Linked DNA regions of Homo sapiens: region 1 is linked to region 2. Evidence: fine-mapped expression QTL. A gene starts in region 2. The other region holds a variant in brackets. All regions are shown on one strand. Distances are from middle to middle. Region 1 overlaps MEIS1 (Meis homeobox 1). Region 2 holds the start of MEIS1 (Meis homeobox 1).

Region 1 (10,391 bases), 63 kb before region 2:
TGAAAATATTTACTAGGTTTTCATAGAATGAAAAAAAAAAATTGACAAAATGTGAATGTGCATTGGATGGGATTAAAGGAAGATAGCAGACTTTCTACATTCATAAAAATTAAGAATTGTCCGTTGGAGTTTGTCAGTGTTCAGATTTATAGTTTACTTAAGATTTATTTTATGTAAGTGTTCATAGAAGTAAAGTACCATGGACACATACAACATACACCAGGAAATTGGATAAATTTTCCAAGTTTTTTTTTTTTTCTGAATCATTTTACTTTGTTCTTTTGAGATAGGAATACCTTTTCCTAGTAATTCAATATTACTTTTTGACTTGAATTCCCCTCAGGGGAACAACAGCAAATTGGTTGCCTACACACAGAGGACAAACAGCAATGATGAATAGGAAAGAAAAAAAAAACACAGATTTTACTCATTTTTCATCTATTCAGCATTTTTTTTTTACAACTAAATGCCCTGAAAAAATCCCTGCAAAAACAGCATAACTTTTTAATGGAGTCTTAGAAACTTCAGGATGTGAGTACACTGCAAAATATACTGAAATCTATACATTTACATTATTGGTAAAATAAAATGGAAATCCCCCAATCTTTTTCTCAGGAAATAAAGAGTATTTTCTTTATTTTTATATTTGCACTTTCAAGTGCAAAGGTAAAACAGTACAAAAGTCATAAACTTTTATTTTGAATCAACAGCTTAGAAAGAATTTTCAGAACTAGTACCTTGCCTATTTTTTAAAATTATTTTAATAATGCTAGTTCATTACTCATAATATGCTCCCCAAAATACATATAAATGCTCTATTAATGAATGGTCATAAACTCCTACATAACCACAAAAATAGATCATTTTAGGAAAAAAAGTACCCCATATAGGATCTCACAGACAGGCAGACACACATACACACACATATGCTCACACAAACACAAATACACACACAAACACACAAAGACAACATTTATTTTTGTGATATCTGCAAAAGCTTGCTATGTAATTTAGTTTTAAACTTCTATATTACTCTGCATATGTATTTGCTATGCATGTATATATGTGTGTATATACAAACACTTTTACACAACAAGATAGCATTTATTTATCTGAGGTCACTTTTTCAACAAACTCAATTAAATAAAATACACTTGAAAAGCAGGATTTGAAAAATAAAAAAGCTGGCCGGGCACGGTGGCTCATGCCTGTAATCCCAGCACTTTTGGAGGCTGAGGCGAGCAGATCACTTGAGGTCAGGAGTTCTAGACCAGCCTGGCCAAGATGGTGAAACTCTGCCTCTACTAAAAATACAAAACTTAGCTGGACGTGGTGATGCATGCCTGTAATCCCAGCTACTCGGGAGGCTGAGGCAGGAGAATCCCTTGAACCTGAGAGGCGGAGCTTGCAGCAAGTGGAGATCGAGCCACTGCACTCCAGCCTGGGTAACAGAGCGAGACTCCATCTCAATAAAAAATAAATAAATAAATAAAAATTTAAAAAGCTTTCTGACATCCAGATTAGAAGGAGTGCTTTTCAACATGGGCTACATTTAAATCATGTGGTAGCTTTTACAAATCCTGATGCCTACACTGCACTCAAGACCAATTAAATCAGTTTGGGAGGTGGGGTAAGATTTCAGCATTAGTGACTGTTAAAGCTCCAAGTTGATTATAACATACAGCCAAGCTTAAGAACCAATAGATTACAATCATAGATTATATGTGGTAAAGCTCGTATACTTTCTACAGAGAAATGATCATAAGACCCTCAATTGAAGAACAGTTACATTTAATTTAGATGCAGTTCTCAAGTTTGCTCATCTAGCTTCTGGCCTCATAGTTTGTAGGCTGAGAGCTTTGTAAAAGTATAAGATGATAAAGAGGCAAAAGACAAGAACCTAAAAGGCATTGCACACAAGGCCCTTTTAGCATAGGAAAAAAAGCCATATAAATGCTTAACAGGCTGTGTAAATAAGGAAATATATAGCACAGTGCATAAACTCATATGTCCACTGACTTTAAATTATTTTTTAAGTGTTATAATCAGATATGAGAGAGTTATGTATAGAGTGGAAACATTTTCATCAAGAATGTCCCTAAAAGTTATAATATTTAAAAAGGTACAATTCTGTTCATCCGGACCACATCTTTCCTGATTGACACACCAGGATAACATGTCTGTATTCTGTAGAAGCTTTTTTTTTTTTTTTTTAACCTATGTACCCTCACTTCACTGGTCTGTGTGGCTAGACAGACCAGAGCCTCCACAGCAATGAGCACTATGATTCGGCTACATGGGTTGCAACCAGTCCACTGTCTGGCTCTCCCTGTCTTCCTGGGAATCTTCTCTCAAGGCACTCTCCTGTTCATCCCTCACTGATGCCTTTCTATTCTGCTTTCCTGTAAGAAGGTGTGGGGGAAGGTAAAGTGCAGGAAGGGCAGCCTGAGAGCTAATGATAGAGAATGAGGGATGAGAGAGTCCATCCTAGGATCAGGCAGAAGTTGGAGGGAGAGGAAATGCCAAGGGTCAGGGGGAAAAAAAGAGATGCTATTCTGTCCAGGTAGATTTCTTTGCAGACAAAGTGAAGTGGAAGAAGATTGTGAAATGTAGATTAGCAAGTGTGTGGGGAGAACAGATATTAAATATAGCTAGAAGAAAAATGTGCAAGAAAGAAGTTGGGATGAAAAAAATAAAGACTTGTTATTCTCTTACTGCAAATCTATCTGAAAATCCAATCGTTTCTGAAAACGAAGGTTTGAGAATTACTAGCATGCATCAGTGATTGCATCTGACCTTCTCTCCTTTGATTATCTGAGGCTACAGTTCTTTTGTGAATTTGTAGTGCCACTCACACCTTCCACTCGGTTAGTCAGGGACGTAGGCTTGTTTGAAAATAATCGTACTTCACAAAGTTTGATTACTTTGGTGGGCACAGTAAAGATAAAAGTAACTTTCTAGAGCAGTGCTGCTCAAACTTTCATGTGCATACGAAACAGCTGGGATCTTGTTAAAATGCAGCTTTAGATTCAGTAGGGAGGAGCTTGAGATTCTGCATTCCTAACAAGCTCCCAGGGACTGCCGAGGCCACACTGCCAGTCCAAGGACCACACTGTGCATCTTAACAAGGTTCTGGAGAATCTTCCCCTCCAGGCAAATAAAGCTAGAAAGTGTGCTGGGTGCACATGAATGCCTCACTGAAGTGGGACGTGGGGACAGCCTCCAGTCACTCCAGGCCAGGAAGACTGTAGCTGCGCCCACTGGACAAGAATGGGACAAGGCTACTCTGAGCCCCATTTTGAGTAGGTGACCTCATGGGTATCTCTAAGACTAACTGACCTATCAGAACAAGCCAGGATGAATCCCAGCTCCTCCTGTTAGCACTGCAGGCCTCTCTCCCCTTTATCTCCTCAACCTGTATAATACCTCACTTCTTGCCTCCTATGTTGGAGGTATTACAAGAGAATAGCTTAGCTTCTTGGGTTCTTTGTCTGGGCTCATGTAAATCCCAGCTTTACCACTTAATAGCTGTGTGACCCTGGGCAAGTTATTTAACCTCTCCAAAGCCCCGTTTCACCCCTCTGGAAACAATGAACCTAGTAATAGTACTTACACCTTAGAGTTGTGGGGCAGATGAAATAAAATCAGCTATATAAAAATGTTTCGCGCATCGTTTGGCAGCAGTGGCTTAGCTCAGCGAATGTGAGTTCTTATGTTTGTTTTGCTAGTGAGTACACCATTTGAACAGGGGAACATTAATCTGAATCCCCCACTCAAAGCTCCAAAATGACCATTGCTACTCTTGTCACCTCTCCCCATCCCATTCCCATTCCTAGAAGTCTTTTCCAAAATATCTATACCCACTCTCCTAACATGGCATACCATTTTTTTTCTATTGTTTTCTTTTTCTTCCCCCACAGCCCCCCAAAAAAAGCCTTGTAAAGTGACTTGGAACTTTGCAAGTGTGCTTCAGAGTAACA[A/G]TGGGTGGCAGTGCTGCCTAAATAGTCCCATCACATTAAGCTGGCAGCCAATTGGTGGATGAGGATACATTGGAAAGCAATTTTTACTAGTACAAGTTTTCATTTCCCACACAAAATAGGTTAATTTATGATAACTCACCCTCTGCCTTCTAAATAATATTTCTGCAGCAGTTTTAATTTTTTATGTTATTCATCTTATTTTAGAGATGGAGTCTCACATGTTGCCTGGGCTGCTCTCGAAGTCCTAAGCTTAAGCAAATCTCCTGTCTCAGCCTCCTAAAGTGCTGGAATTACAGGCATGAGCCACCATGCCAAGCCTCTGCAGCAGTTTTTAACAGCAAAGATTTTTGTTTTACTGATAAGGAAAAAAGTTATATCATTTAAGAAAGTATCTTTCAGATCCAGGAAAAGTGAGACACACTACCGAAAAACAGGACTAACTTTCCATCTCTTCTCTAGACAATAAGAATAATAGAAACAGTACTAAAAACTAACATTTATTGAGCACTTACTAGATACCAGAAACTGAGATTGGCATTGATCTTTGATCAATTAATTCTCACAATCCTTGCTTTTCTGAAGTATCTCATTTAATCCTTTGAATGTCCCTAATGCACAGATAAGGAAATAGGCTGCTATACAGATAAGGAATACAAATCCTTGTGGATTCAACCCAGATCTGACTTGAGGCTAAACTCCTAACCATTCTACCACTACCCTTTCCATTTACTCCATTAGAGACAATGATAATGATCAAGGTGCATTTCTTTAACCTCTAGAAAGGTATCTGAGGGTAGAGACAGTCCTTTCTTATTGCTGTATGCTCTCCACAGCCAGCACATGTCTGACCCATAAAGTGAGTTCATAAACCTTCCCTGAATCTTATCCTTTTTACTGAAGGCAAAGAAAAAAGAGACACCGAAGCATGTACTCTCAGAGTAGCATGTGAGTGTATCTTAGTCAAAGTTAAATATAAAAACCACCCCTGAAATGTACAAGGAAGAAAACAAATACCAAGTATTTACAGATCCAGAGAAAGTTCACAAGAATGGGAGGATGCCAGTTCCAATGCTTTGTAAAGTCAAAAATAGCCACATTGCAAAACAAACAAAAAAAAACGAGAACGTTCCCGAGTGTGCCTCCAAAACATAAAGGAGAAAATCATACAGAAAAACCTCATGTAAGGGTTGGAACTTGAGCAACCAGCTATCCAAATACAGAGGGGAATCCTCGCTTAGCTAGGGCATGGCCTGAGAGAAGCCCCTTCCTGCTTTCAGAGCCTACAAGTAGTCCCCAGTGAAATGACAAAAATGCCCATGCCTAGGACATAAAGAAGGACAAAGCAAACATTTCCCAGCATCACGCAAATGGTTTTCAAGTATCGCTCCACGTCAGGAATCTGAAATTCTGCTAATAGAAAAGTTATGAGGCAATTGCCCTCTCCTGAGACCCCCGTGCACACTATGAAATTGGGCAATTCACACTGACCAGGCCTGGTCAGGCTGCTCGACCAGAGAAGAGCAAAAAAGAGACCAAGCTCACAGGAGAGTTACTTTTCACTCACCATTTATGTATCAAAGAAAAGCAAGTCTCCCCTGCAGGAGGCATACGGAAACACAAACAAGGCTGCCTCCTGAATCACCAGCCTGGAGTAAAGAACAGTCACACACTGCCCCCCACGCCCGAGGGGAGGGGAGAGGTTTTCAGTGATGACGTCACAGTGTGCTAACCTGAAATCTATCTTGGGTGAGAAAGAAGTCACAGAAACCAAGGAATTACTTCCTTCTCTGCTCTTGGTCCTCTTCTGGATCTAGTCTTCTCTCCAACATCAGCTGGCTGGGAATCTCTCTTCCCCTCCCCTGGCCCAGCCCTTTCTTTCCCCAGAACTGAATACTGCTCTCCTGTGCTGCCAGCTGGAGGGATGATCATCTCTTCCCAAACAGATCTCCGAATACCAATCGTAGGCCTGCCTGACTTCTGAATTGGCCTGTGGCCTAGAATTCCTTCTTGCTGGCCCCACCTACCAGACTGGTTATGCCGAAATGCCCAGGCCTGAACTTGCTACACTCTTTGGGTGCTAGATCTTGAACCACCCAGCTGCCTGCACAGCGGCCAATTTCTAGATCCAGATTAGGTGCTCCAAACCCTCATCACTCTTAACAGTGGGGGTGTTTCTGCCCTGTCTCAGCCTCCTCTTGCTGCTCAGTGGCTCTGTGTTGCTGAGGTTCTAGCACATCTTCAAAGCCTCAGCGTTTCCTGCATTTTCCTCATCTGCCATGCAAAACTGGGAAAGGGCCCCAGATCGCAGCCATTCAGATCCAGGTGGTCTATGAGAGTATAATTTACATGCTAGATACCAAAATATGGTGTGGGAAACACAACTGTCCCCTTGTTTCTCATTTATACCCAAAGAACTCTTTCTTCCAGAAACATCTCTGAAGTAACTCTCCATAAGTCAGGCATCTCTGTTATATTTGGGGCAATAAGTTCCCCCTCCTGTAATGGAGATAGCTTAAGGAAAGAGCAAGTACTAGCACAATCTAATATGATGAAAAAGACCGGAAGTTGAATGATGGATCACTGCAGACCCAAAGCTGGATGTCCGTCTTCTCTCTTGTCAAAAGACGTAAGTATGATCAGGGTAAAAAAAATACATAACCTTTAAGAATCACAGTGTGAGGAAGATGATCTCCAGCAGAAAAGCCTAAAAACTTTAAAAGTATGAAATGTGACTAGTTTGGATGAAAACCAAAATTATAAAAACTGGCCTGAGTGATCATGCTAATTGCCTGTCTTCTAGACTTGCTTCTTTTCCTTAGTTTAAAAAAAAAAAAAAAAAAAAAAAAAAAAGGTCAGAAGAGGGAAAGTGGGCATTCTGAATCTGTGCTTAGGCTATGTGAATGTGGAATGATTGTTCCATGTCTTCTGAAACCTGGCTGTGAACCAGGGGCAAATTTCCAGATGGTCAAACAGTAATTTCGCAACACCGGGCCACTATTTCTCGTCTTTCCAAGTTCCCCTACTTCCCCAAACATATGCATTCATGACTAACCTTAAGGTCAGAACCTGGGTCCTCAGTCTCAGGTCGGTCTGGGTACTCTTCATGAAGTGACTCAATTTGCTGAGCCTTCCTTCTTCTACCCACAAAGACGTGATGGTGATAAGGAACTGGCTAATTCAAAGGGGTGTTATGAGGAACAAGCGAGATCATATATGTGAAAGTTCTTGGGAAAACATGAAGTACTGTAAAACATTCCCTGACTATGGGAGAACTTCCTCCGGGATCCTCCAATACAGAGGTAGGTGCATTTTCCATGTGCGAATTATAGCTGATATTACACCACCTTTACACGGCCTGTTTATATGCAGCATTCCTACCAGACTATAAGCTCTTTGAGCATAGTAAATGAGTCTTGTTCAGTATTGTATTTCCTCAGGGCCTGGTACTAGCAGGCAGTTGGAGTTTGTTAGATGAATAGCAGATTGAGATAATAAATTTCTTTAGAGTAATACAGTGGTTTGTGGGAAGGGGAGGCAGTAGAAAAATACCTTTGCCTTTACAGCTTTCGTTTCTCTACAGAAAAAAAGTTAAGTGTCTTACCCTGAGTTTTTCCATATATGCGGAATAGACAGAATTCATTATAAGAAAACTTTAACAAAGAATTTGGTCTTGCATTCTAGAGGTTTGCTAACTCTTCATTTCTACACGGGGAGAGCTATTACATATGGAACAAGTGATCGATTTGTTGATTCAACTGATTGAAAGGAGTGAGAAGGCTGAGAACAACTTTGAGATCATGCCACTCTTTTTTTGTCACAAGTGAACTGATGAAGTATGATCTTCACTAGTCAGATTAAACTTATATTTCTATACAGCCCATCATACCACCACCTATATATGCTGAAGATAAGACTTTTTTTTCAGGAAACAATTAGATGGCTAAAGAATCATTCTTAGACTAAATTCTGCCCATATTGCCACCAAATGAAATACAGACAGATCACTCAGTTCTCATATTCTCTTTCTCTCTCTGTTTAAATGGGTCTGATTAAGTGATGCATGGGTCACTCAGAGTAAAAGCAATTCAAATGATCATTTTACATGTAATGAATAACATCTTTTTTTAAGCTGGCTTTATTTATTAGAAAGTACATTAGAGAACATACGATAGTGGGCTGTGTGGTTTACTTATAGGGGAGTCATAATGTGCAGGAAAAGGTGGAGTCAGACAGTTAGGAACATTTTGTTCCTGCTCATTTGTAATAAATGGAAATTAACATCATAATAAGTGGATATTCTATTTAAGCACATCACAGAGAATATAGGAAGAGTAATTACAACTTCTTAGCTAATTTTATTATTATTGATATGATGATGGAAGAAAACCAAGATCATTTTCTAAAGATATAGTTAGCTGAAAGGGATAATTCATTTATAAGGAAATAACACTAATAAAAATATTAATGAGTCTTAAATTCCTCAGTCCTTAAGACAACTCAGGGTCCAACACATAACTAAAAAATAAGGTGGAAATATTATAGTTAGGAAGCTAGCAAGGCTTCATGTTAAACTGGGAGAGGGTAAATAACTATAGATAGAATCATAATATGCGTCCTTATCCAAATGTTAACTATATTACTGGAAGAGTACCAGAGAAATGAGAAGGGGCTTGAACCCAGATTTAGTTCCAATTTATGCCTTCAAGATAAGACTATGGAAAAAGTAAATGCCAGCATTTCCGCAAATTACAGCTGCCTTAAAAACTTTACCGTATAGCAGCTGATATCTTAAGCAAACTAGTGTTATAGAATTTAAAGTTTGAATATCATGGGTCATATCTTTATGTGTTTGTTTTTGCTATATGTTATTTGTTGCCAAGCAACATGGTCCCAAAGTCCGCCCCTCAAATTTAAAGGCCACCTGAGTGGGGTATCAGCTTCCTCTGACTTCCCTTTATGAAGGTAGGAGGTCTACCTGTGTGGGCATGGGTGCTACAATTTATCTAAGAGTAAGGGTGCAGTAACAGGCCCCAGATGTGTTCAACAGCATAACTAAGAAGATGCAACTCTCATTAAAGCAATGAGACAAACTTCCAGTGTCCTGAATAAAACAACAAAAAAAGAGTTGTCCAACTGATTTATTCCAAATGACCCAGAGCCACTTTGTAACCACACTTTTTCCTAGCACCCATGTGGAATACCTGTGCATCAGAATGGAACAGCCAGATCTGCACAAACAACCAAGGACTTCTCAGGGGCCTCTGCTGTAGGAGTCTCCAAGAAAGAACAAGCTGAATACTCAACTCAGAATCAGCTGAAGACTTGCACAAAGAAACAAGCTTTTGCATACTCCTGACATCCTTCTCCTTCTGAAACCAGCCAGATGAGAGCAACAGCTTTCTTAGCTTAGTTGCCCAGGAGGCAGTTTCTCCAGTGCAGGGTAGAGAGGGCAGCCAAGTGAAAGAGTTATCGACCATGTGTGTGCTGAGTTCAGTGCAGCAAACCAAGCTGAACTGAGACTTGAGACCTCAGCATCCACCCAGAGTCTCAATCTAGCAATCTGCTAAGGAGGTTTGAATCCTGTACTCACAGGCCCAAACAATCTGCAGGCACATTCTATTTTCCAACTTCTACGGAACATGTGGAGTTGTGTCTATAAGCACGGTGACAGTTCACACAGACGGAAAGGTTCATGGCTGCCTGGTCAGCTGTCTGTCTCATCTGTTCTTGTAGGACTGCAAGGGTGTTCATGAAGACTCTCCAGTATGCATGTAATAGAGGAACCCCCTCTAGCCCCCCTCCACTAGGAATTCCTCGCTCACACCCACACATGCAAGCAGACACACACACACACACACACAAGTGAACGCTCACACTTTTCCTGTTTTAATTAGCTACTGTTCCATAAATTTTAATTCCCTGTACTACCAGTGATTGATAACAGATTCCTTATTAAATATCTACAATAAACTGTACTTTCACAATGCTGTGTGTATTTTAGCACAACAGAAGTTCCCTTTGAAAAGAATCATTTGGACGGTGCTAATAATTTTCTGGGTGCAGCTGTCCTTATATCATGCAATAAGCAGGGAAGAGGGACCCAAATCAACTGTCTCCATTGTGGAATTAAGGGAGTGTACGAAGCCCCACACACTCTGTGAATGTAGAGCCAGCATTTTAAATGGCTGTCAAGTCAGTTTTGAAAGCCAGAATTTGCTAACCCCCACCCATGTGTTCTTATGGCATTTCTTGGCCTCACTTGATAGATTGATTCTGAAAACATACACTAATTTTTTTAAATGCAAAACAGACCCACTTGTTTTAGGGCCTGTACAAACAGAGGATGAAGAGAGTGGAAACAGCGTAAACAATGTTGTTTATATCCAAGGCCTGAGAAAACTGCTGCACTTT
Region 2 (10,391 bases):
GAGCCGGGAGGCTCCTCCTCAGCTCCACGCACATTCCCCTCCCTTCGCTGATAGCCCCCACCGCCCCCCAAAGAAAGTTCCTTCAAATGTTCCTGCAGTAGAGCCTTTCATTTTGTCTCTGCGAAGTGGCAAAGCAGCTAGTATTGCGAGGGGCCTAGATGTCGCTTGTCTCAGCCCATAAAAAAGAAAAAAAAAAAAAAAAGAAGAAGAAGAAGAAAGAAAGAAAAGCTTCTTCTAATGCCCAAGGAGGTATCTCAAGTCTTTTATTAGCTCTCACAGCTCAGCTGGGAATTTAACAGTTTGGGGTCCTTTACAAAGCTTCCCCAAATGTTCTGTCCCAGAGCCTAAACCACTTGTAGTTAACTCTGCGGACAGAACGGTGGGAATTAAACAAGCCCATCGCACAAGGGATCAGAAAATAAAATAAAAAGATTATATATATTTTTTTTTCCAGCGAGGGAGGGTCAGTGTGTCCTGATTTTTTAAAAATAAATAAATAGAAATAAAAGTTTCTGCAAAGTAAAAAGAGGTTCCCAAATTCATCGGCACACAGTAGGCACAAGTGAGTTTCAAAGGATTCTACTAGCCCAGGGTCTAATCGAATGGCGGAGGAGAAAGCAGTATAAACCGCAGCCAGAAAACAACCTCCGAGGAAGAGCACCCCGAATTTACTTATTTCTAAATCCTGCAGGTTTCGCCTTTGAGCACAAAGTGCTAAAACATCTAGAAGTTTCTTAATGTGTGTAACAATTCAGAGCAAGCTCCTCTCCTTGACTTCAGTGGTCAAACTCCCTAAATGCAAAACATGTTCCCCCTTGCTTGACCTGCAACTGTCCTGCTTTGGTTTTATTGTGCAGTGGCAGAGCCAGCATAAGGCTGCTGAGTAAACTCAGCAAGTCAGAACAATCAGTGGCTTAAAAGAGATTTTCCCTTAAACTAAAAGTTTCGTTACAACACAAAGGCGCCTGCATTTAGAAACCCCTAACGCTCTCGGGCGAAATCGAGCGAGGGAGGACTCCAGCCCGCTGAAGGAGTCTGAGAGGGGACAAGGGCCCTTTAGCCAGCTTCTTCTCATCTGGGACCCCCTTGCGGGCACTGCCATGGTGGAGCAGGGCACTGGATGTGCACAGAGTGTGTATGGGGATGTAGGGCTTCAGGGATGGCAGGCCACCTCCCCAAATTATCCATGAAATGTGAATGAAAAGTCACCAAAGATGTACCTCCAATCCAGAGAACTCTGACTTTCCTCTTACCAAGGGCACAGAGAAAGAGGGAAGCGTTGAGTCTCAACTACTTAACCTGCTGCCCATTGTACCTACCCATAAATGGCATCTTTATCTCTCTTTAAAGCGTCATTGACAGAGGAGCCCATGCTGGGGGCCATGGCGTTGGTATGAGCTGTGTGCGGGTACTGATGCGAGTGCAGAGGAGGCCCGTGGTTCAGGTGGTGGACCGGCTGCATGGACCTGGCTGCATGCGGGTCCCCATACATCGTGGAGGGGATGCCTACTCCATCCATGCCCCCGTAATGGGGTAGATCGTCGTACTGCATGACAAACAGGAGAGAAAGAAGGTTCAGGAGGCCAGGCGGGCAAATGGGAGAACGGCAAGGCACCGAGCTTATATAAGGTCAATACAGCTGGGTCCTTCCACCCGGAATTCGGTGGCCTTGCATCTATAAAGCTGAGTTTTTCTTATTTTAAAATTAAAGCTTTAAGTAAAAAATACAGAATTCTCAGCGAGACTCGTCTGGGATGAATGATCTTGCCCTAACTTGTGTCCCTATCAACTAGTTTAGAAATTCAGGCTCCTTTGGCAAGAAGGAAAGAAGAAAGAAAGAGAGAAAGAGAAGCATTCTCCCGAGGGTAGAAGGTGAAACGGGCATGTCTCTGGAGGAAGAAATTCAAAATCACAATAATAAAACGTGCCAGGACACTGCAGCAAACCCGCCTAGTTTCACAGCCCCTTCACATCAGGGGGAATTAAAAAAAAAAAAAAAAGTTACGATGGGAACAGCTACGCAAAGCACGTGAATTTAGACAGGCTTCTCATTTTATTTCCCTGCCAGCGTGAGGTTAGGCAGTCCTACAAGACACTGCATTTCTTTTGCTTTCCAAGACAAACTCTGCTAAATTATACAAAACTAACTGACCCCTTATAAGTGAAACTCAAAGGAGGGTAGCTTTTCCTGAACATCAGAGCTGAATTTAGAATTGGGCAATTCCCCACCCCCAAAGTTAAAGAAAATCTATAGTTGAAGCAGCTAATATTCTATTTTCTTATTTACTCTTATGAACTTTGTTTCCAGACTAGAAGTCAAGGAGGCAAATGTTACTCACCAGGTTTAAAGCAAATTCAAAAGCAAATGCACAACTTTCCATCTTCCTCTTCCAGAAAAAAAAAAAAAAAACTACTTTCATATTGATTGTCATTATTTTGTGTGTGTGAAATTTAGCTATTTAGGTTTTTCTAATTGGTTCATTCCAGGCAGTTATTTTCCCAAGATTTGGAGGCGCTGAGAGTGAAATGATTTTCAAAGAAAGGAGGAATTGCCACTTTCATCTCCTTAAAGCCAGAGGTGTGAAAAGAGTTTGGAAGAACGCTGACATTTGCCTGAACCAAAGGAGTAAAGAAAACTGTGTCAGCCTAGTAACTTTCTTTTGCAAACAGGGCTTTGAGGGCCAGGACACAAATTATGCAAGGAAGGCTTTTTGTAGACCCCCTTTCTTTTAAGAAACTACCTCAGTTGGGTTGTCATTGTCTCACTTTACTCTCACTGCATTTCCATTGAAAAAGGAATATGGGGAAATTAGTATTGCATTTTTAAAGTGAGTAACTGTGTGCTTAGTATTCAATTAGTAGAGGGCTTATCTAAGAGAAACTTGCAAAATATTGCCTTGTATACAAGTCTATACAAATTGAAATTACTATAAAAAGATGAATGTTTTCTGACCAAAAAATTGGCTATACTATGACAAAGTTATTTCCTTTAAAAAGCTGAATACTTCTAGTGATATTAAAGATGAGCATAATCAATAACATATCAGAAGTTTCCAGCTGCATATTTTAGTTTAAACATAACTTTAAACTTCTGATCTCTGAATGTTCAAATTACAGCTTTAGGTATCTAGCTTTTTTAAAAAAAAACCCAGATGATTGTTTGAGCTTGCATTTTTATTTATATAGCTGCTGGTTAGGAATCTATAGATAAATAGATTCCTTTAATTAACAACTCCAAGTAACATACATAAGTCTACAAATGCATTGAATAAATCCTCTCGCTTAGGCCACGGCTTTAGGAGCCTCATTTTTTAAAAGAGAGAGAGAAAAAAAGGAAACTTTTTAGCAGTGTCTTTCGGCCACGTTTCAATTTAATCTCACATTTGAGTTCCACAATTGTTTTTTAATACGTACCCTTTGCGCCATCGGCCTCTCTGGCTCCCTTCCTACTTCAACTTCTAATATATCCTCTTTAAGGCCAGTGTGAAAAGAAACAAATATTCAAACTCCCCCGGAAAAAAAAAAAAAAAAAAAAAAAAGCACGACGAAAAATCCCTTAACGTCTCCAGCAACGTGAGCTACTGGTCCCAGATCTTCGGTCTACGGGACCTGAAGCAAAGCGCCCGAGTCACTGAGCATAAAAGCGCTCCGTTTCCAAGACAGCAGCGGGGGCAAAAAAAAGCAGATCTTCTCTCCCCCAAAAATCAGTTTAAAAAAAAAAAAAGAAAGAAAGAAAGAAAAGGAAAAAAAAGAGCGCCCCTCAGACCCAACTACCAAATCTCATGGCTTTCTGCCACTCCAGCTGTCAATCACAGGCGAGGTTGTCAACGTGGTGAATGAATGATCATCCGCTCTGTCTTCTTCTGGTCAGAACACCTCAAATGTTAATATTCAAATGCACAAAGCCCTAGCGCTCGCTTCCCTTGAATCAGTCCTAATTCCTAATCAGTTTCTCTCTTCTCTCTCTCTCTTTCTTTCTCTCCCTCTCTCTCCCTCTTTGCAAGTGCTGCACTGGAAGGAGATTAGAGAAGGAGGGTTAAAAAAAATGTCTGTCTGAGTTTGTCTTAAAGGAGCCACGATCGATGCTGCCCGCTTGCAGTCCCCGTGCGTGTGTAAAGTGTGTGTTGCACAGGCGGAGAGGTGGATTCCGACCAGAATGCTAGAACCCGGAAGTAGTGGTGGCCATAACAGGTCGCGTCTTACACAATGCATTGGGCTGCAGCAAGTAGGCTCCTCGGCAGGGGTGGGTGCGCGAAGCGAGCTCTGGCCGCACTGGAGAGGCAGAGAGGCGCTCCATTAAATCGCACGCCCAGGCACAAACACCACACACCCAGGGCACACGCACACAAACGCAGGCAGTAGCCCGCGGCCGCCAGCTTTATTTTCAGTATTCTTTTCTCTCCCTCCCCCTGCAGACTCTCTCCCCAAAGCCGACTCTCTTGAAATAAATTGGGAATCAACGCCGGGCAGGCAGCAGCGGGAGTTATTTTGCACAGGGCTCCGCGCATAGACTTCATGACTTTCCTCGAAATTATTGGGGTCTGCCAGTGTTTTTCGGGGCAGGGGGTGATGCGCAAAGTACTGAATTCTCAGAACTAAACACTGCAAGGAGAAAAGTCAAAGCGGGATCGTGGAGGAAAAGGAGGGAGAAGCCAGGTTGGGAAAGCCTCTGCTAAGGAGTCCTGAGAACATGGGGTTGAGGTGGCTCGGGCTTTCTGCAGACCCAGCTTAGAGGTTTCTTTGCTGTTAGAGGTGGACGCCCGGCCGGGGGAAAGAAAATGCTAGCATTTTGTCACTTCGGGTCTGGACTCCCCCACCTCCTAGCCCCGGCGGCTCCCAGCCCCAGCCCAGGCGTCCTGCGCGAAGTAGAGAGGAAGGGAGGGAACAATGAGCTGAGCGCGGGGAATGTGCCCCCAGCGCCTGTTTACAAACACCAAGCTATTTATGATCGTCGGAAAGCGAAACCCGGCGCGGGCTCGCAGCAGCCCAGACCTCGCGGGCGGAGCCGGGGCCGGGGAGCCGCTGGGAGGGAGGCTCTTTCTCCGACCCGCTCGGGGTGAGGCGGCCGTGCGCCCAGGGCGCGGCGCGGCGCGGCGCGACGCTGCCGGAGTGCTAGGCTCCGGCTGCAGCCACCGCTGCCTTTGTCTTAGAGGCGCCGAGGGGCTCCAGCCTCGACCTCTCCCGGGCCTGTAAGAACCTCGCGCCCCACTAGCTCTTTCTCCAGCGAAGCCCTGCCCTCACCACCCCAGACATCCTTCCCCGCGCTCCTCTTTCCCGTCCCCAACCCGGCTCGGCGAAACCTCCCAGTGCCAGAGAAAAAGAAATCCGCTTCGGAAGCTGAGATTTCAGACAAAAGCTGCCTGTACCTACAACTCGGAGGCTCCAACCAACCACTGTTTTTTGTTTTGTTTTGTTTTTAACTTTAACACCTATTGCCTGGGCTTTAATTCCCCCTCACCCCTTCTCTTTATTCTCCCGCTCTAAGCTTCTCCCTTGTGATTATATTTAGTGGCGTTATTTTCGTATTTATATTTCTGTCCGCTGGGCTCTGATCTGCCGAGATGGCTCAGCCGCAGCAGCTCTACCAGTGGCTGGAAACCTCACATCCACAAGCAGGGCTCGCAGCTCGCTCGGCTCCGAGAGGATTTTTCCCCCTCCCTCCAGCTGAAACCTCGCAGAAAACTCCCCCTGCGGTCGACTGGAAAATGAGCTCACCCAAATCTCGGTAGGCAGCCGTGGAGGAGTGCTCGGCCAATCAGGAGGCGCCCCCGCCCAGGCCGCCGCGCATTGGCTGCGGGGAAAATCAATTATCAAATAATCGATCAGCAGGGAGCTTCGATCTGCGGGGAATGCGAACTGCCAGTCCCTATTCCCGCCCTGAAGGTGGCCAAAAGGCTGACTCCCTCCAAGCAGCCCGCCCGCGCCTCCATCGCCCCCACCCACGTCCCACTCGCCAGCTGCGGACTGAACCCTCACCCTCAAGGGGGTGTAGGTAGGGAAAGAGTTTTGAGCAAGATTGGGGGTATCCCTTCATCCGAAGATTGTTTGGGAAAGGTTAGGAGCTCTAAAATGTATTGAAGCCAACTCTTAAGCGCAAAGTAAAAGATAATTTGCGTCCGTCTGCGAGGTAGGACTGAAGATTCTATAGAGTGGGCTTCCGAGGAGCAGGAGACACAGGGCGAGCATGAGAACATAGGTCTGGAATGAGGTTCCACCGAGCGTCCGTAGTCTCCTTAGGCGACATCTATCGCTTCCTTTAGCACTTCGCAGGAGTCAACGCGGGGTTGGTTGCCCCCAACAGTGGAGCGTTTCCATAAAGCCGAGCAGATGAGCCTTCCCAGCCGCCTGCACTGCACCCTTCCCCGCCCCCAACTCCGTACTGGCACCCTGTGTGCCTGAAGGGCTGACACACGTTCTCCCAAAACCTTCAGAAGCGCTTTGCCTTGAAAGAGCTCTCCCTCGTGTGTGTGTGTGTGTGTGTGTGTGTGTGTGTGTGTGTGTGTGTGTGTGTGTGTTTAAACCATCTCCAGGATCCCTTATCATTTGCTTCCTCTCTCCTTTTTCTCTCTGTTTCTCCCTGTCTTTTTTCTGACGCTTAAGTTTCAGGATCTTTTAGTTTTTTTCCATCACATACATGTGTAGGTTTTCTGGTACAAACGCCCTGAAACATCACTTGGGAGGTTAAGACAGGCCCGCGAGTAAAAGCTGGGGACGGAGTGGGTGGGCAGCCAGGTGCATTACCAGCGCCTTTATGCCTCTGCCTACACTTCCCGGCCTCCCCCCATCCCCCCACCCCCCCACCCCACGCCTCACCGTCGCTCCCCGGCCCCACAACATGAACTTGGAAGCAGAATTTCAGGCCAAGATGGAACCTCCCCGTCTCAGGAAGGCGATTTCTGTTTAATCCTTGGGAGGCTGCGCTGGCTGGGCCAGGCAGCACGCTCCTTTTCCGATTAGGGAAAGGACTAAGCTGGGCCGGCAGTCTGCGACCCCTTCCCGGAACCCCAGCCGACTTCGGGGTATACCTGAGCGCCTTCCGATGGCTGCTCGCGGGGGTGTGATCATCGTCCCCGCATCAGGCCCGCCAGGCATCTGCGCGACTCGGGGGTAGGAGGGAGATGCGTGGGTGGGAGGTGGGGGTCAAACCAAACACCGACAGGGCACACCTACGTTTATGATCCTTAAATGAACTGCGAGGGAAATTGTGTAAGTATAATTTAACTGAGAGAAATTTATTGCGAAATACGCTTAGAGGACTGTGGTCTTTAACAGCCTCAGGGGTTCTTCGGCAAAGAGGTAACGGGGCTTGGATTTACCACAACTCTGCGGCCACGTTTTCAAATTTGGAAAAGGTCAGTATATATATATATATATATATTTGACAACAGGATTTATTTTGTATTGTTGCTTTCCGGTAATCTTTTTCTTTTGTTTTCTAGCACAGATGAGAAAAGAAGGTTCAGGTAAGTCACCCTTTGCAAACATAACCAAAATCTTCAAAGCAGGAGGAAGACTAGACGACTGCATGCTTTAACCATGATGTGCCAGATTACCTTAAAAATGTACTTTAAATTACCTACACACAAATTTTCCTTAAAGAATGAGATAGTTTGAGTTTGCGGACTTAAAATCAACTCAGTAGTTTTGAAAAGTGCCCCTCCCCCCCCCCACAGTCTTTCCATTTTAAACTGTGAACCTAATATAACTTCTAGGCCTTTATACAATTAATTCTGAACAATCAAGGGACTAAACACTTTTACAATGTAATTACAGTAGTACAAATTGTTTGCCCAAACCTCATTCTGGATAAGGATTTTACAATTAGCAAACAGTTATTACAGTTGGGGCTTGCTGAGAGAAATTGCACAGAGGATGTCTAGAGTTGCAATATAGTAGCCATAAAAAAAAAAAAAACTCCTTTAGCAGGGCAGCAATTAATCATCTATTAAAAGGAAACAAATGAAGGGACAGGTCTAGGTATCTTAGTAAACTACTGTCAATATTTATGCCCATTTTTTGACAGCCCCTATTCCTAACTTATTTCAGATACTTGCTTTTTTAAGGCAATAGCACTTTTATTTTGCAAAAACTTGGCCTGGTGAAAACTTCTGGCACTTGGCCCTAGCTCTTGCGATTCAGGCCTTCCGTTCTCTTCTCATCCTTCTTATCTCAGAGCATCTTTCCAGAGATAGAGAACGGTGACAAAAGGAGGCAGACTGGGCCCTTGGTCTCTATTGTTTACACCCTCCTGTATGGAGGCATTTCAAGCCCTCAGTGCTCCTCTGAGCTGCTGGTAAAGTCGTCTCGGAGAACTCCCCTGACTTTATGTTCTATAAGGAATTGTGCTTCTGGAAAGATCTATATCCTAAATTAGGCTTTTGTCCCAAAAGGTCACACTGATGAGTCAGCTCCAAAACCCTTAGAAACTAAAGAGGCACCTCTTAAGGTAAAACGTGTGTGTATTTGCCAGCCCAGAATAAACAAAAGCCTGTTAATCAATCGAGTTTGGCAGCTGTGTTCACAAAATGATAAGGGTTTATCATTTGCCACCAAACTTTAAGATGTCCCTTAAAATGCTGTGATTGGTTTTTAGGTTGTCCTGTGGTGTGGAGGCTTGGCGTTTGTATTTCAAAAACATTCATCCTCTGCATCTCTCCCCCTCACTAGCATTGACATTTCAAAAAAACAGAAATAAGAGGAGGGAGGGAAAGATAGTTTAAAGAAAATAGATTCGAAATCTAGTACAGATAATAGAGGAATGCTGGAGATAAGAGCCTGGAGGTGATATGAGAAAGGCACCAAGAAGTCAAAGCTAATGAATGGCTGTGAGAAAAGTGAAATAAACTATTGAGAGATCTATTAAAGGGGGAAACCTGGTTAGGTGATATCAAAGGGGGTTAACTGAGAGGATTAGGGAGGATGTTAATCAAGTGCTCTAAAGCATTACAGGCTATAAGGACTGAAAGATTTGTTTACTGCATTTTGCTTCAGAAAACAAAGAATGTCTGGGTCCAGTTCAGAAGTCAATTAGAGGTCAGCTTAGGCTCTCCAAGGGTTGCAGGGAAAATACCTAAGTTACTATATTCTGACTGGATGATGCAAAAATTAGGGAAAAAAAATGGGGGGTGAGAGGGAGGTGCTTTCCTTACTATTCTATTTCAAATCATTAAAATGCTTTGGTCTCTAGGGGGGAAAAAACTACACTGGTTAACATAATTACTAGCTCTGACATTTTCAGAAGTTATAGAGGTCTTTTATTAATTAAATGGAGGGCTTAATAAAGTATTCCTAATAAAATTTATGGTTGTCTTAAAACTTTCTAAACAGTGCTATAAATTCTTAATAAAATTAACTGGGAAATGAGTTATTAGCCCACACTTTACCCTCCCCCCCAAACTGCTACATAAGGAGTGTCTGCAGAATGAAAAGGAAATAGAAGCCTTTTAGTAAAATATAAATATTAGCCAAAGTCATGCATTGCTCTGAAAGAGGCAAAGTCCCAACTGTTGTTTCTACTGGCCTCATTCTCCAATATCCCCCAAAAGCTATCCCACAAAACTTCATCAAGAGAATTTATTCCCCTTCCCAAGTACCTATTATATATGCATTTATGTGTAAGTGCATTTGAAATACAACCTTCAATTTTGTGGACTGAGTTGTATGTTAAATGTAGTAAAAAACATAGATGCATCATGCAAAGTTCCGCTATAGAATCTTCAAGTCTCACGGTGCAAATACTTTCTTTATTTTTAATTAAAAATAAAATGCCCTGTAATTTCTCTCACTTTAATTTCTATAAAGATAACTTTTAAATGATAAATTTCTAAATAACATTTTTCTCTGAAGTTATTTAAAAGTGTATTTTCTGAAGCAACATTTTGTTGACATATGCAAAACCTTTTTATATCATTACGTTTCAAAACTTTTAGTGAGTTATCTTAAGTTTTCAGGTACTTCACTGCTTCACAGATACAATGCTGGCTGGTTAGCTATTTTAAAGAAGATCACACACATACACTTCAAACCACAGCAGCCTTGGTGAATTGTTTAGCATTTGAAGGCTTGATCTTTTGTGCCGTCTACTGGACAATAGAAAAACTGCAGCCTTGATGACAAACTTTAATCTTGTTTTACGGGGGTGGGAGGTGGTGGTTGGGGGTATGATTTGGTGCTGGTAACTAACAAGAGAAAACCACAGTACCCAACTTAGACTCATAGGACAGGTCTTGGGGTCTAACCATGTTTTTCAAATCCAAAGATAGGATATGATATCAATCATAGGTGTATAGCTCAAACACTTGATTAAGGCACAAGGCTAAAACCTACATTGAATACAGCTGTGCATGTGTGTGTACCCATATGCCTAAACTTGGGAAGACAGCCTGGGAAAA

The links.
Region 1: its variant is fine-mapped to the expression of MEIS1 in whole blood (TOPMed, PIP above 0.99). The same link has a PIP of 0.9 or more in blood mononuclear cells.

Annotation. Positions count from the first base shown.
Region 1 is chr2:66,491,520-66,501,910 of GRCh38, reverse strand. The region is part of intron 7 of MEIS1 (Meis homeobox 1); the gene reads right to left. Among named protein-coding and RNA genes, the nearest start is that of MEIS1-AS2, 56 kb to the right of the region's middle. The variant A/G (reference allele first, on the strand shown) is at 3,981.
Region 2 is chr2:66,428,892-66,439,282 of GRCh38, reverse strand. It overlaps MEIS1 (Meis homeobox 1), which reads right to left and starts at 4,158. Exons shown (of 13, transcript NM_002398.3): 1 at 3,415-4,158; 2 at 1,320-1,546. The coding sequence starts at 3,426. MEIS1-AS3 (MEIS1 antisense RNA 3) reads left to right here and starts at 5,813. Exons shown (of 4, transcript NR_046438.2): 1 at 5,813-5,992; 2 at 7,273-7,352; 3 at 7,445-7,463. MEIS1-AS2 (MEIS1 antisense RNA 2) reads left to right here. Exons shown (of 2, transcript NR_046625.1): 2 at 1-196. RefSeq lists enhancers at 4,199-4,298, 3,886-4,762, 5,632-5,984, a promoter at 3,860-4,400 and a silencer at 5,007-5,106.